Regions from separate parts of the Homo sapiens genome. Here region 1 is linked to region 2. Evidence: fine-mapped expression QTL. A gene starts in region 2. The other region holds a variant in brackets. All regions are shown on one strand. Distances are between the middles of the regions.

Evidence for each region. PIP is the estimated chance that this variant, and not a neighbour inherited with it, causes the effect.
Region 1: its variant is the best candidate, but not a certain one, in a credible set for the expression of SH3BGRL2 in prefrontal cortex (BrainSeq, PIP 0.53).

The regions. Positions count from the first base shown.
Region 1 is chr6:79,693,042-79,695,953 of GRCh38, forward strand. All of the region lies in intron 2 of SH3BGRL2 (SH3 domain binding glutamate rich protein like 2), which reads left to right. Among named protein-coding and RNA genes, the nearest start is that of SH3BGRL2, 63 kb to the left of the region's middle. The variant G/A (reference allele first, on the strand shown) is at 1,223.
Region 2 is chr6:79,629,948-79,632,859 of GRCh38, forward strand. It overlaps SH3BGRL2 (SH3 domain binding glutamate rich protein like 2), which reads left to right and starts at 1,382. Exons shown (of 4, transcript NM_031469.4): 1 at 1,382-1,559. The coding sequence starts at 1,515.

The DNA of each region.
Region 1 (2,912 bases), 63 kb after region 2:
GTTTGTAGTTCTCCTTGAAGAGGTCCTTCACATCCCTTGTAAGTTGGATTCCTAGGTACTTTATTCTCTTTGAAGCAATTGTGAATGGGAGTTCACTCATGATTTGGCTCTCTGTTTGTCTATTATTGGCGTATAGGAATGCTTGTGATTTTTGTACGTTGGTTTTGTATCCTGAGACTTTGCTGAAGTTGCTTATCAGCTGAAGGAGATTTTGGGCTGAGACAATGGGGTTTTCTAGATATACAATCATGTCATCTGCAAACAGGGACAATTTGACTTCCTCTTTTCCTAATTGAATACCCTTTATTTCTTTCTCCTGCCTGATTGCCCTGGCCAGGACTTCCAACACTATGTTAAATAGGAGTGGTGAGAGAGGGCATCCCTGTCTTGTGCCAGTTTTCAAAGGGAATGCTTCCAGTTTTTGCCCATTCAGTATGATATTGGCTGTGGGTTTGTCATAGATAGCTCTTATTATTTTGAGATACGTCCCATCAATACCTAATTTATTGAGAGTTTTTAGCATGAAGCGTTGTTGAATTTTGTCAAAGGCCTTTTCTGCATCTATTGAGATAATCATGTGGTTTTTGTCTTTGGTTCTGTTTATATGCTGGATTACATTTATTGATTTGCATATATTGAACCAGCCATGCATCCCAGGGATGAAGCCCGCTTGATCATAGTGGATAAGCTTTTTGATATACTGCTGGATTCGGTTTATCAAATCTGTTTTTATAAACATCAGTCTGTCTTCACTTTGAGAGAATGATGGGGTAGAAATAGTGAGATTAGACAAAGGTTGATAAGTTGGGGTGCTGTTGCAGAAGTCTAGCTTAGATCAGGTTGGTAGAGACCAACGTGGAAAAATTGAGAGGCTTAAGGGATATATAAACTAGTGGTTGAGGGAAGAAAGGAGTCCTGTGATGTGTTGATTTTGGAGTTACAGGGCCCAGTAAATAGTGGTGCCATTTTCTGAGACGTCTAGTTTGTGGAGTGGAAGATCATGAATTGTCGTTAAGACCTGTTGTGTTTAAGAGTCTGTGAACAGTTAGTGACTTTTATGGAACCAGAGCTCAGAAGAGAGGTCAGGGCAAGAGATTGTGATTTTAATTAGGGCCATGGCTGTGAATGAGCTTCCCCAGGGAAAGACCTTCGACTGAGTAGAGGCTGAATATGGTATAGAGAGAACAGGTATACTAAGTTACATACAGTTGATATCTTAAAG[G/A]ATGGAACAAATCTAGCTGTAATTTAGCCCTCTTCCTCCTCTTACCACGTTCAGTATAGTCAACAAATTGTCAGGCAGAGAAAGTATGTTTTGAACAGAATTATTTATTGAACTCTCATGAGGGAATTATTACTCAACTCTTTGGAAATAGCTTCATTACAAAGAATGTAACATTTTCAGTCCATGAGATTTTGCCTGTATTTCATGTCAAACTTTGACCTGTTTTTGTGGCATAGTTAGGATCATATTTTGTCTTACAAGAAATTACAAATTTTCGTACAAATTCCATGAAATCTCTACATCCTAGAGCCATTAGGAACCTCCAGTTGCTCAGCTGATATCTTCTTTACTCAATGTTTCATATAGTTTCTCAGATATTACATGTTGAAATTGAACTCCAACCTTCCCTTCAGATTGTTTTTTCTCGTCTTTTTCATCAAGCCAGAAAGTTCAGAGCCACTTTAATTCTTATTTCTCCCTAATCACCCCCATCAAATCCACAACCAAGTATGATCACTTCTACCCCCAAAATGTATCTGCAGCCTGTCTGCTGCCCTCTGCCGTCAGCTCGGCTGCCACCATTGCTTACTGCAATTGCCAAAGTACTCCCCTTTTTCCCCTCCTTTCCTTTTTGCTGCCCTTTTTTTGAGCCATTCTCCGCACAGTTATTTAGGTATTTTCTTAAAAGAAACTAGATCATTTTGCTCCCTTGCTCAAAACCCTTATATGATTTCTTTTGGTACTTAAGATAAAATTCAAGATCATTTTCTTGGTTTACAAAGCCCAGCATATGTTTATCCCTGTCCACCCTGCCAGCTTCACACTTCACTAGTGCTGCTCCCTGCCCAAGAATGCTCCCATCCCAGTCCTTCACTTGGCTAACTCTATTCATCCTTCAGATGTAAGCTTAAATGCCAGTTTTCAAAGAAGACTTGGCCAAATCGCTCTTTTCAGACATGTTGCTCCTTCTTGGCTTGGTCAAGGAAGGCCTTTCTTTAGAGCTGATCCTAAATGACAGAAGGAGCAGCCTGTGAAAAACCTGAGGCTACTGCCTTCCAAACCACGAGACTCAATTGCTAAAGCTTTTGGAGAAGAGGATCTGTACACAGAACCAAATAATTCAAAGATTTTTTAATCAGACAAGGCATGCGTTGCAGGAAGCGAATCTCTACAAGTCTAGATGCCGTTGGCTTGGCTTAACAATGGATTCATTAGCGCTCAGTGACTCCAGCACACGTGGTGCCCCATACTTGGTTTCCTTTTGGGCAGGATGCACCCTAGAGTACAGAAAGTGTGAATTTCAAGGTCAGTGAAACATGAGCCCAAATATCAGTTCTCTCACTTATTAGCTGTCAAACTTGAACAACATATTTCTTTGCCTTGAGCCAGTCTCTAACCCGGCAGGCTGTGGTGAAGATTTAATAACATAACATTTATAAGACACTTAGCACAAAGCAAATGCCTAAAATGATTGTGATCATCATTTGCTTACATTATTTATCCTTAGGATAAAGTTATCAAATTACCAAATTTTAAGACTGCTTTACATATGATAAATGCAAACTTTTGAAAAGAAACAGTTGAACAGATTGACCAGAATTCCTTGATGCCTTCTTGTGAAGGTAGGAAGAGAAAAATGATTCTATATGTTTGAGGCAAAGGTAAATATTATAGAGAATATAGTTTCCTT
Region 2 (2,912 bases):
TTTGCATTTATATAGGAAATACGGTATCTACTTTTAAGAAAATTATTTTCTATTTTATAAACGTGCATTTCCACATTTATGGTAGCAAAATTAAAGTACATTTGCCGAGAGATACTAAAGACAGCAAAACTTCTATTTAAAATTTTAAACACGAAGAAGAAATAAAGTCCCATTAGGAGTGTCTCTTCTATTATTGAAGGAAATTTAAAAAGATTCCTACTACAGAAATGGCTTTAAGAAAAGCAATAGGAAAGGTTATAAATTTGAAATATTCATAACTGTTCTAAAAAATACTTCATAATGATTGCTCTTTGTGCAAGAAATGTATCAAAGAGCCAGAGACCTCATCATCTAATTTCTTACTTTTTCTTAATTAACATTGTTCCCAGACCTCTGCTAAACTCCCGTGTTGAAAGGAAAAAAGTAAATACAGTACAGCAGGGAAAACTGGTTCCTTTCGACAAAACTGAGAGAGAGGCTTGAGCTTTTGTCAAACAGAAAGCACTTGATAAAAAACTATTCCTAAACTATTAGCAACTATATAGAAGCTTTTTATTTAACAGCATCCTCCTGGGAAACTGCGCTGGAATGTGCAGCGGTTCTGAAAAAGGCACAGATTTGGCTGAACTGTAAATATTAGGTGCACAGAGGCGAAGCCATTGTGTAGGGAGGGGTGGGGCAGGTAGGGTCCTGATTTCCAATGTTGATAGAAGGATTCCAATTTCGTTTGGTATTTATTTTTTTCTACTACAATTACAGTTTTGCTGAGAAAAATAAAATATTGGTTGTGCTTCCATCTGGGTTTCTAATTTTCAGTGTGTACAGACAAGAGAAGACCTCTCATTTACCCAAAAGAATCACCTTTCTGCAATCTCCAGTGCTACTGGACAAACAAACGAGCCCAACCCCACCGCCCACACCTCCCAAGCACCCGGCTCGCCGATCCCGCCTGCTTCAGGTAGCTGGGGTTTGCCCGGTACGCCAGCGGCCCTGAGACGATGTGTGCCCGCAGCACGATCGTGTCTGTTGGCATTTCTGGGTGTGGATGCTCCAAACCAATAAACCACAATACAGAACCCAAGCTTGGACTTTGAACCGAGCCCTTTTGCCTAGTTTGCTTTTTCCTCATCAAGCCAGGATCCTTGCCAACCCACCTCACAGCTTCTGCCCGGGCTGTGGCTCCCCTCCAGCCACCTGCGCGTGTTCGGGATAGAAGCGCGGTCAGGAGGGGAGCTCAGTCCACCAGCCACTCCAGGGAGAGACGGAAACTACAAATCCCATCAAGCCCCGCAGCCGGCTCCCTCCTCCTCCCTCTCCTTCCCCTTCAGCCTGCGGCCGGGCGGCGCTGGGCTTTTATCTGCGGACCCGCCGGGAGGGAGCCAGATCCCAGCGATCTTCCCCGACGGCAGCGCTTTACCCAGAGGCTGCCGGCGGCTCGTAGCTGGGTTCAGCTCTGCGTCCACGCCAGCCCGGAGCCCGGGGGGCAAGGGGTCTGTCCCGGGCGCAGCGAGAGGATGGTCATCCGCGTGTTCATCGCCTCTTCCTCGGGCTTCGTGGCGGTGAGCGCGGTGGGGGCGGGCAGTAGGTTGGGGTCGCGGGGCGCGGGTCCTGCGGGAGGCGCGCGGCGCTCGTCACTGCGCGTCCTTGCGCTCAGCCGGTCCGCCCGCGGGAGCCCGCGCCCGGCAGGTGATCCATCACACTCCGACAACAATGAAGAGGGCGGGGAGGAAAGGTGGGTGGGGGACCCCGGCCTCACCCAAATGCCCACCCTGCGTGGCCTGAAAGGCAGACAACGCGGCCTGAAAATGGAGTCCGAGGGAAGCCCCCAGCTCCTGTTGTGTGGCATGGAAATTTGGGGAACGGGTTGTTCAAGAGCTTCGGGGATCCCCCTTCCCCTAGTTTAGTTCTTCCCGATTTGGGACCTTCAGACTGGTTATGTTTTGCACGGGAGCCTTTTCTGCTGCTTTGGTTTGTTACCCTAGCTCCTGAATGAAGCAAGTTTAAGTGGGAATTGCTCTCTGTCCTCCCTTCCCCGCCAGCAAGTGCATTTGTTTAGTTTTATACCTGCGCAAAGAGAATAGTAAAACTAGGTTTGTCCTGTTGTGGTAGGATTGTTTGCTTTCACTGTCATTTTTTTTCTTAGGGTGCCATAAATATTTTTACATCTTTATGTAAATGTGTGTGTATGCACGCATTTTCTTTCCACCTGTAATGCTGTGGAAATTTTATCCTGGGGATCTATGAATTGTGGTTTTCTATTTAATTATTTTTAGCTATTCTCTTTGGTGGATGTTCTTGAATTTTTTTAGAGAAAAAAAATTTTTTTAAAGAAAGGAAAGTTAAATAGCTAGAGATGTCAGAATTTAAGGAAAATTCAGTAGTTAGTATATTTGACAGCCCACTAAGGGACATAGCACATGTGTTTTACATGATTATTGAGACTTGGTTTCCTTAACCAAGAGTTCAGCTATAGATTTAAGAGCCTCCTTTGTGACATATATAATCAAGTAACATCAAAAAGTGCATTGTAGATTGCTTAAATTTGGTCTGGTCAATTGTCTGCCCAGTAGCTCAGTCAGATTGTTCCAAAATTTGTTTCTTAAGTGGGTGGAGTGGAGGATGGAATAAAATATTGTTTGAAAATCCTTGTACACCACTGAAGTTTTTTATTTAAAAAGAAACCAACACGATCATACAAAGCCCCTCCACCCCCATTTGCACTAGAAACAATAGATGGGAAAATCCAACTTACACTTATGTGCAGTCATGTTGGGGTCCTCAGACTTCTGACAGTTTCTGGTGTTTCTAGCTATTTGGGTTGCTTAGTCATGCCTGCCTTTTGTAGATTTCCCCACTGAAGCCACACTTCATGTGTTTGCAAACTGGCACTGTTTCAAGGGTAGATTTGTTCA